Regions from separate parts of the Homo sapiens genome. Here region 2 is linked to region 1. Evidence: fine-mapped expression QTL. Tissue or cell type: whole blood. Region 1 holds a variant in brackets; the other region holds the start of a gene. All regions are shown on one strand. Distances are from middle to middle.

The links. PIP is the estimated chance that this variant, and not a neighbour inherited with it, causes the effect.
Region 2: it holds the start of CASC8, and the variant in region 1 is fine-mapped to the expression of CASC8 in whole blood (TOPMed, PIP 0.93). The same link has a PIP of 0.9 or more in blood mononuclear cells.

The regions. Positions count from the first base shown.
Region 1 is chr8:127,672,723-127,677,874 of GRCh38, reverse strand. No RefSeq gene overlaps it. Among named protein-coding and RNA genes, the nearest start is that of CASC11, 59 kb to the left of the region's middle. The variant A/G (reference allele first, on the strand shown) is at 3,093.
Region 2 is chr8:127,479,430-127,484,581 of GRCh38, reverse strand. CASC8 (cancer susceptibility 8) reads left to right here and starts at 2,443. Exons shown (of 6, transcript NR_117100.1): 1 at 2,443-2,948; 2 at 3,511-3,854; 3 at 4,776-4,878.

The sequences.
Region 1 (5,152 bases):
GAATGAAATAAGGCATGTAAAATGTCTTAGCATAGTGCTTTGGACTTGGTTAGTCCCAATAAAGTATTACTGTTATTATTGTAAGCATGTGCCTGCTCTTCTGAATGTTTTTAAGTTAGTACTTCTTTAGATTCAATGAGCACCTAATAAATACGTACTATGTGCCAAGCTCTTTTATACTCATTATATTGTGTAATCATCTGAATTTGTTGAAATGGGTGCTTCATCTGATTCTACCGATGAGAAAACTGGTTCTCAGAAAGGTTAAGAAATTTGCCTGGGTTATTTACAAGTTACAAAGCTTATAAGTGGTACACCTGAGATTAAACCGAGACAGACTGGTTCTCATCCCTCCACAACCCAGATGGAGCTAGAGTTTGCTCCTAGCTCTGCCACTGGGGAGCTCTGTAATATTAGGCAACATGCTTACCTTCTCTGGTCCTCATCATGTGGAAAGTGAAAAGACTGGATTATTCATGGTGAAGTAGAAGGTTCCTTGCAGGGGCGCCAATAATAACAGCTAGGGGCCTGGCAGGTATTTCACAAGTATTTTTACTGGACCTAATCAGGTTTCATTCAAGTCATCCTTAATTCAATAATTTAACAAGTATCTGTTGAACATCTACTATGTATCCAGCACTATTTTAATTACTAGAAATGATGCAGTGACTAAAACAGAGCAGGCCAGGTGCGGTGCCTTATGCTTGTAATCCCAGCACTTCGGGAGGCTGAGGCAGGTGGATCACCTGAGCTCAGGAGTTTGAGACCAGCCTGGCCAAAATAATGAAAACCCCATCTCTACTAAAAATACAAAAATTAGCTGGGTGTGGTGGTGTGTGCCTGTAGTCCCAGCTATTTGGGAGGATGAGGCAGGAGAATTGCTTGAGCCTTGGAGGCGGAAGTTGCAGTGAGCCAAGATCACCCCATTGCACTCTAGCCAGGGTGACAGAGTGAGACCTTATCTCAAAAAAAGGAAAAAAAAAAAAAGAAAAGAAAAAACCCAGAGCAAAGTCACTTTCCTTTCTGTGTTTATATTCTACTTGGAGGGGCTGGTGGTAGAGTGTTGGCTATAAACATATAACATATAAACATAAGCAAATATCTCAGGAACAGGAAATCAGGGAGGAAAGCTGCTCAGTTGAAGGCATGCTTAGAATGTTCCAGGAACATCCAGGAAACCAAGATGGCTAGAGTGTAGTGAACGTGAGGAAGAACGATAGGAGGGCAGAGTGTGCAGGGCCTCATGGATCACGGCACAGACTCTGGCCTTTGCCCTGGAAGGGGAAGCCATTTTTTTGGGTGGAGGTTCACCCAGAGGAATATCCTGAGACAATAATTTGAATGCAAGTAGTTTATGTGGAAAGTGATTCCAGGAAGCACCAGAATAGGTGTGGAGAGGTAAGACAGGAAAGAAAAAGAACCCAGTAAAAGGGGTAATATCAAGCTGGTTGCGATTGTAAGCAACTGCAACTCTGTCTTGCAAGGGACCACTGGGAGACAGTGTAGAGAATGCTTGCATGTCATCACCACCCAGGCCGAAGGACCTGGGAAACTGATCCACCGGCTCTCTGACCATTGGTGGTTGAAGGCCATGTCCAAAGGTGTTAACTATCTGGCACATTCTGTTTGCCCTGGACTTGATTATGTGTGCTTCTCCAGCCAGGAAAAGGGCCCTGAGGCAGAGGGTTGCAGAGCCTAATTGACTTGCACAGCTGAATGCAGAATGGATATGGCCAGGGCATCAATGCCTCTGTGACTCCATTGGGAGTTTTTGAGCAGGGGAATGATGTGATCAGATATATTTAAATGGGTCACTTTGAATGATGTGTTGAGAATAGGTAGGGTGGAGGGCAAAGGAAGAAGGAAAGGGAAATAGCTGAAAAATTATCACAATAATTCATGTAATGGTAACTTGGATCAGATGACTGCAGCCCCAGGTAGTGGAGGTAATATGTTTTGCTCACTTTTTTAGAAAACACATTTTTGTTTCAATAGCTCTTGGAGTACAAGTGGTTTTTGGTCACATGGGTGAATTGTTTAGTGTTGAAGTCTGAAATTTTAGTTTAGCTTACCTTTTGAATGGATTCTGTAAGCTCAATCAAAACTCATTGTTTTTAAGCATCAACGACTGTGTCCACCATAGGGCTAGATGAATTCTTACTTAACTTCTCTTCTTCTTCTTACATGCTTAGAATTGCAGCCTTGACTTCAATATGATGTATATTCAAACACCAGGCAAATTAGCTTATTTGTGCATTGACTACAGAAAACTCTGTTAGTCTTACTTTGTAGGAGTAAACATCAAATGCTTCTGACAGCGACACTCAAATGACATGCTAAGATTACATCTTCAGAAGTTTAAGAATATAAAGAAACATCTTGAATTAGAAAACAGTACCTTTTTGTTTATATAAGTAATGAGTTTAAGGATCTACAACAACTCAGTAGTTAGTTGTGAATTGCCGTTGGCTTCAAGGACATAATAACAAGCAGTAGGTATATAATACATATTTGTGGAACTGAATTGAATTGGCTTATAAGAAAGACATAATATTTAAATCCTTAGCTGTGAAGAACTTACCAGGGCTGCCTATTATTTTTAGAAGATTTTCTTGTCTGATCCTGCTCTGAAGTAGCTAACATTGGCTACATGTCTGCTATGTTCCAGGGACTTTACAAGCAGTATTTACGTTAAGTTCTGTGGTAGCCAGTCTTGAAGAAGGCCCCGGTGATCCTGCCTCCCTCCTGGTGTTCACACTTTTGTGTAGTCCCCTCCCACATTGTACCAGGGTGGGTCTATGTGGCAGAATTGGTGGTTTCTCACTTTTTTTTTTTAAAGGGCAGGGTCTCGCTTTTTCATCCAGGCTGGAGTGCGGTGACATAATTACGGCTCACTGCAGCTTCGACCTCTGGGCTCAAGCAATCCTCCCACCTCAGCTTCCTGAGTAGCTGCAACTACAGGTGCATGCCACCATACTTGGTTAGTTCTCTTTTTCGCAGAGACGAGGTCTCACTATGTTGCCAGGGCTAGTCTCGAAGTCCTGGACTCAAGCAAACCTCCCGTCTTGACTTGCCAAAGTGCTGGGATTACA[A/G]GCATGAGCCACGGCACCAGGCTGCGTTCTCACTTTTGAGATTAGAAATATTGGCAGCTTCCATTGTGTTCCCTCTTTTTCTCTCTTGGATCATTCACATGTCATGAGAAGCCCCAAGGTGAAGCCTACATGGTGAGAAACTGAGGCCTCCAGCCAGCAGCCAGGTTAATGGGTTTGAAAGCAAATCCTCCAGCCCAATCCAGCCTTCAGATGACTGCAGCCCTAGGTGACAATGTGACAGAGGACTCAGGAGGAACCCTAAGCCAGAACCACCCTCTCATCCATGCTTAGACTCCTGATCCTTGGAACATATGTGAGTTAAAAATGTGCTTGTTGTTTTAAGCCATTAAATTTGGGGGTAGTTTGTGTTACACAGCAAAGATAATTAATAGAATTCCCATAATAGTTCTTTGGAAATGGATATTGTTTTCTATATTTTTACAGTAGAGAAAAGCAAAGCTCACAGGGTGAAGGATAGAAGGACCATATAACTTATTGTTTAAACTGGGACATTTTGAGCATTAAAGGGATGTTCTTATTAATTACACTGAAACAGCAGGTGTAAACTCGGACAGTCCCTGAGTCCTGGCAGAGTATGGGGGAACATCACTTTACTTACGTAATTTAACTAGGGTCTTCAGCCACCAAGTATCAGAGTTTGGACTGGTCTGAAGTATGTCAGTTTCCAGAGTGTACACCTTCCTGCTGCTTCCCTGGCTATGTCCTAAGCACGTATCCAGCAATAGTAGAACTCCAGACATAAGAAGTGATATACATGCACAGCGTAAATGTATTTTGATAACTACATTTTTTTTTTTTTGAGACAGAGTCTCATTCTGTCACCCAGGCTGGAGTGCAGTGGTGTGATCTCACCTCACTGCAAGCTCCGCCTCCCGGGTTCACACCATTCTCCTGCCTCAGCCTCCCGAGTAGCTGGGACTACAGGTGCCCGCCACCATGCCCGGCTAAATTCTTTTTTTTTTTTTTTGTATTTTTATTAGAGACGGGGTTTCACTGTGTTAGCCAGGATGGTCTCCATCTCCTGACCTCATGATCCACCCGCCTCCCAAAGTGCTGGGATTACAGGCGTGAGCCATCGCGCCTGGCTTGATAACTACATATACATGTATATAAGTACAGGAAACAAACACGGATTAACACTTGGTTGTTTTTTTCATTGTGTCTTTGTGTGTATTCTACAATTATAAAGAAATGCATTCTTTTTAAGGCTGGGCACGGTGGCTCAGGCCTGTAATCCCAGCCCTTTGGGAGGCTGAGGCTGGAGGATCACGAGGTCAAGAGACCAAGACCAACCTTGCCAACATGGAGAAACCCCGTCTCTACTAAAAATACAAAAATTAGCTGGGCAGGGTGGTGCATGTCTGTAGTCCCAGCTACTTGGGAGGCTGAGGCAGGAAAATCGCTTGAACCCAGGAGGCAGAGGTTGCAGTGAGCTGAGATTGCACCACTGCACTCCAGCCTGGCGACAGAGCGAGATCCATTTCAAAAAATAAAAATGAAATGCATTCTTTTTAAAAACAAAAATCTCTTTAAAATATTAAGTGAAGAGCTCTTGGCCAAAGGTTTGGAGGAACTGCATGCATGCAGGTATCCCAGGTAGCAAGCTGAAGTTTAGAATTTGCCAGTGTGAGTCACAAACTAATGACCAAGCATCCTTGTAAAACATTCATGTTTTCATCTCTGGGTGGGTCTGTGTTGGCAAAAAAAAAAGAAGCTGAGGGCAGAGAAATTTCCCAGGAAATCTAAGATAGGTAGTTCTAGGATGAAAAATTCTATTAGGTTGGTGCAAAAGTAATTGCAGTTTTCCCTTTAATTTTAACAGTAAATACAGCAATTACTTTTGCCCCAACCTAATACTGTCTAAGCCCACAACACACACAATTGTCTGAGGACTTTAGGCAAATAAGGGCTGGTTTTTCTTTGTATTTCTGTCTCCCTACTGTATCTGTTTCTTTCTTGCTTCCTTCTTCTCTTTCTTTTTTTCTCTCTCCCCTTTTGCCTCTCTTCTTTTCTCCTTCCCTTCTGTCTTTTCTTCCTTC
Region 2 (5,152 bases), 190 kb after region 1:
CTAGGAAGACTCTGGCTCTGCTGCGTCCCTGTTCTGCCCCCATTTTTCCTTTTGCTCAATAAATCCCATTATTCTCACCCTTCAAATTGTCTGCGAGCCTAATCTTTCATGGCCTTGTGACAGGGAGCTTGTCTTTAGCTGAACTAAGGAAGAGTCCCACACCACACGCACACAATATAATGACAAAGCCCTCCCCACCAGCACTACTACTACTGCCAAGAACTGTCCTCTAAACAGTGTGACCCAGCTTTGTGGAGAGTTGGCCAGATGGGCGTCACCTGAGCTCAAGGACAATCTCCTCTGCTCTGGTCTTGCCTCATGCCCAAGCTGGATTTGATCCCAGGTCTCTTGACTTCCCTTCTTTCCTCCCTACTTATTCCCATGCTGGATTTGAGCCCAGGTCTCTTGACTTTCTTTCTTTCCTTCCTTTCTTCCTTCCTTCCTTCCTTCATTCCTTCCTTCCTTCCTCCCTCCCTCCCTCCCTCCCTCCCTTCTTTCCTTCCTTCCTTCTTTTCTTCCTCTAATGTCTATTGAGCACATATTAAATGCCAGCTTCCTTCTAGGATTTGGAGTTTTTCAATGAAAAAAAAAGTGGACTCCTGCTTTTGTGATATTTGAATTCTAGTGAGTGGACACAGACAGACTACAAAGCATAAATGTTATAAAGTGGTGAGGGGTGGTTGCTATAGACAAAAAAGTATAAGGGAGTGTAGGGGATATCAGGAGTTCTGGGGGATGATGGGATTGCAATTTCAAATGCAGAGGTTAAGATAGACCTCATTGAAAAGGTGACATTAGAGCAAAGGCTTGATGTCTATGTGAAGAGCATTCTGGACACATGGAGCAGCTGGTGCAGAGGACTGAAAGTGGAACATGGGTTGATTGTGGCTTAGCAATGAGGGGCAGTGCAGACAGAGGTGCAAAGAGGCATCAGGGGGGCCTAGTCATGAGAGGCTCTGCAGGTCATGGTTGGAATTAGATCTGGTGCTGTCCCTCTATGTTGTGGTCAGCAAGATGATTTCACCAGCAGCTTATTCAATATGCTTTCTAAGAAAATCATCATTTAACCAGTTAGTGTGGATTCTCCTGGCCAAATCCTAGTGTGCAAATATGCTGGAAACATTCAATCTTGTTTCCAGCAAGGCTTGGGATAATTTAGAAACTGTTCAATCAACTCAGTAAATATGAATTAAACATTTACAGTTGTATTAAATATTCGAAAGATAGGAACCAAAACAGTCTATCAAGTAATTGTACATATTTGTGCATTTACAAAATGCATATTCATGAGAGCTATGTAAATATATATTTAGTCATTTCCTCTTTCATGTGAAGTGCTATGGCTGAACTACAGATGGTAACTTTCTTGTGTCTGATTATGAAAATGGCACAGTAAAGCATTCTGACATTGTCCTTAGAAAAAGATCATTGTTTGGCCATTACCATGAGTTCAGTGTTCTTGGAACTAGGGAGAAGAAAGTTCTAGAACATGTCTGTTTTTGTGGCAGGCATCTAGGGAGGAAAGGCAGTTATTTCTAAGATACGTGGCTCTCATACTTTTTCCACCAAGGGTCACAAAAAGGAGGAGGTTTATGTGTAGGACATGCTGAAGTCCTGTGGGCTCTGTATTCCAGCCACAGTGCCACCCTTTCTTTCTCTGTCAGGAAAGCATAGTGGGAGGGTAGGGAGTGAGCATAATGACATTTTGGGTTAATATTTAATTCATTCTAATTTATTCAAAAACGTGTCTAACTTCTCATGATATCTATTAATACTAACATGACTGGCAACCCCTCACAACTGCCTCTGACAACTCTTGTGGGTCCTTCTGCCACATCTAAGGACTCTCTGGATAAGGAGATGGTGAGAGAACACACATTCTAATTTTGTCTTTGTGTGAAGGTCTTATGTGAAAATCTTTCTGGGAATTAGAGTTTTCTAAAGGAATCTCTATTTCCTAAGGTCCTGATACTCTTACTAGCATTTGCCAGTTAATTCTGTGAGACCCAAATGTGTGCAGGGCCTGGACACTTTATCTCATACTAGGTCTCTTCCTTAACCATCCACTATTCCCCAAATATTTACACAGGTGGACTGCGTAGTTAGACTGATATTTGTGTCAGCCTTGAAAACTCAGGATGACTCTCGAAGCCGACTGCTCATGAAGTATCGTTGCTTGGATCTCCTCTTTTGGAGACTAAGGGAGCTTGACTGTGTGCAAGTTAGCAATAAGGACTGACTACTGGATTAGGTGGACCACGTGAATATCATCTTGTGGTGGCCTTTTGGGATCTTCTGATCTCACTCAGAGTAAAAGCCAAAGTCCTCACTATGACCTAGAAAACGCTTTGTGATCTGTGCCCCCAGGTCTATGACTTCACCTCTAACTAATCCCCCTCACTTGCTTAACCTCCTTCCTCAATGGCCTCTCTGCTAGCTCCTTGAACCACCCCAGGCCCTTTGCACCTGCTATTCCCTCTCCTCAGCATGCTCTGCCCCAGACAATTGCAATGCTAACTTCTTACTTCCTTCAGGTTTCACTCAGAAATGACTTTCTCAGTGGGGTCTCCCATGACCATTTTATTTAAGATTTCAACTACTTTGCCAGTATTTCACTTCTCCTCCCTTGATCTTTTCTTCCAAGCACTCACTGCCCTCTTGCACACTGTATCTTTTACTTATTTATCTTGTTCAGTTTCTGCCTGCCTCACCTGCCTCACCACAGTGTACATTTCACGAGGGCAGGGATTTTGTCTGTTTTGTTGATTGCTGTAGCCCTGGCATCTTGGGCAGTGCCAGCACCTGTTAGCATTAAATACATATTTACTGAATGAATGAGTGGCTTCATGCTTAAAAGCAAGAAGAGAGACCTTCATAGAGAAGTAGGAAAATGAATTGTTGCACAAATAAAGGGCCATGTAATGAGAGAGAGAGAGCAAGAGAAAGAGGTGAGATGCTGATAGATTTTCCAAAAACATTCCAGTTCCTACTTCCCATCTTTCATGAACCAAGATTTTTACTTCCTATCCATGGGCTATCCCTAAAAATTCCATTTTCTTAGGCTACTGTAATAGGGCTTGTCTTTATTGCTACCAAAAATCTCTAAGCAAAAAAAAAAAAAAATAGAGTCAAACTAGAAGATGCTAATTGTTTTCTCAACATCCAGCATGTCTTTGGAGAATGGGGTTCTCATGTAGCAAACAGTTTTGTGGGTTCTCTTCCGTGTTTCCTTTCTTGGATAACTAGGTCACAGACAGCTGGTGTTTCCCATGTGGCAAAGGGAGCATGCAGAGAAATCCCCGCCTCCTCTCTCTTTGCTTTTCAAGCCCTGCTGAATGCCTCCTAATGATTTCATCTGCTCGGAGGTCTGCTGGCTTTTCCACTCTCGTAGAAGCTGGTGGCGCCGGGGGCTGATGCATGCTCTGACTACTGACTTGAAACATGCTTTGATGAATTAGTGCAACTCGGCCAGCCATTTACTTTAAATTTTACCCTTGATTCTTCCTCTAGCAAACAATTAAGGAGCAGCAGTGGCTTCCTGCAGGGGAGACCAATGCCTTCTGTCCTCAGCGGAAACAGCTTGGCATTCTTCCAATTGATGAATGGCATGGACCAGGAGCACTAGTTATCTTCAGCTTCTGAGCATCCGAATAAATAAACATACAAATGCATAACATAAAATAAATTCAAATTACAAATGAGAAAACCAATCTAGGTTACCGGCAAGTCCTATGACTTGATGTGGAGGCCTGGAAGTGCATCCTTGAATCTTGCAATGCAGTGAGCCAAGGAGCAATGAGAGGCCACATGAATAACCGGGCCAGTGACAAGACACATGTCCTCCTCCTTGCTGGGTGAGTAGCCCAGTCCAACCCCAAAAGCTCCTGAGTAAGAGGAAAATGTCTCTTTAACAGTATTAAGGGATAATTTATTATGTGTATCCTTCCAGGGAAGCACAATGTCAGTAAAGGCCCATTGCATTTGCATTATTTCCAGACAACAGCAGCAGCAGAAAGGGACACTGATTTATTTCAGAGCAAGCACAGGTGAATGTAGTGTCTGTTGGGAATGAGCCAGGGAGCACTTAACCCGTTCTGAGTCTTTCTAATGCTTTAGGGGGAACCATAGGTTTTTGGAATAGTTCTATTGGCTTCTTTGGTCAAATTCAGTGTCCCTGAGCCTGTGCTTCTCAATCGCTTGGTAATAAAAGCTCTTACAGGGTGGAGGTCAGCGAAAAAAATATGTTTAAAAACAGAAAATCTGGTTTTATGCCGTGGCCACGTTAATTTCTTTCCGTGTGACCTGGGCAAATAATTTAATCCTTTTACGACTCAGTTATCTCTTTTGAAAAATGAGTGTAATAATGCTCCCTGCAGGATTTTAATGAAAATCAACTAAGCAAATGTATTAATGAGTGACATATAATGAATTGTATAAATGACATTGTTTTGGTGTGACATCAATTTGGGATTCCTGGGACACAAACAGAAGTTTAGGTATTATCTTCAGGTATGGTGTCTTGGCTAGCTTAGCTAGCAGAGAGCTTTTTTCTCAGAGGAATCATTCAGTGGGAGGTAAAACAGTCACTCTTTGAATTCTGGAATTAGAGAGTTATGAAATTCAAAAGGTCATGGTAGAAAGTGTCTTGGAGACATCTCTTCCGAGCTTCTGTTTTGGCAGAGGGAAAAACTGAAGCTTAGGGAAGCAAAGTAAACTGTAAACATCTCGGAGGGTGAGGTCAATCTTAATTATCTTTGGTTGTTGTTTCTTATCAGTATACACCAGAATGCCCCGCATGCAGCGAATGCTCAAAAAGTGTTGGTGGAAGTGACAGAATTCCATCACCATTAAACACAACCAGTGTTGCGGTTGACAATGGTAGGTTGGAGTATTTTCTCTTCTGATCCAGATTAGATCAGAATTTGATACTATTTTAATATTAAGCCTTGAAAAGAATGTGTTTACTGGTCAACTGAGGCATCTTGGAAAGGGACATGACCCCTATAGAGCCAGAAACATCCTGGTAAATCCTCTAGTTTCAACTTCTGACAGAAAGTCCTTGAAGTCTTAAAGAACAATTCCTTTTATTAAACCTTCATACAATTTTAACTTACACAGTAGCACACAATTACAAAATGTTACCCAATACATT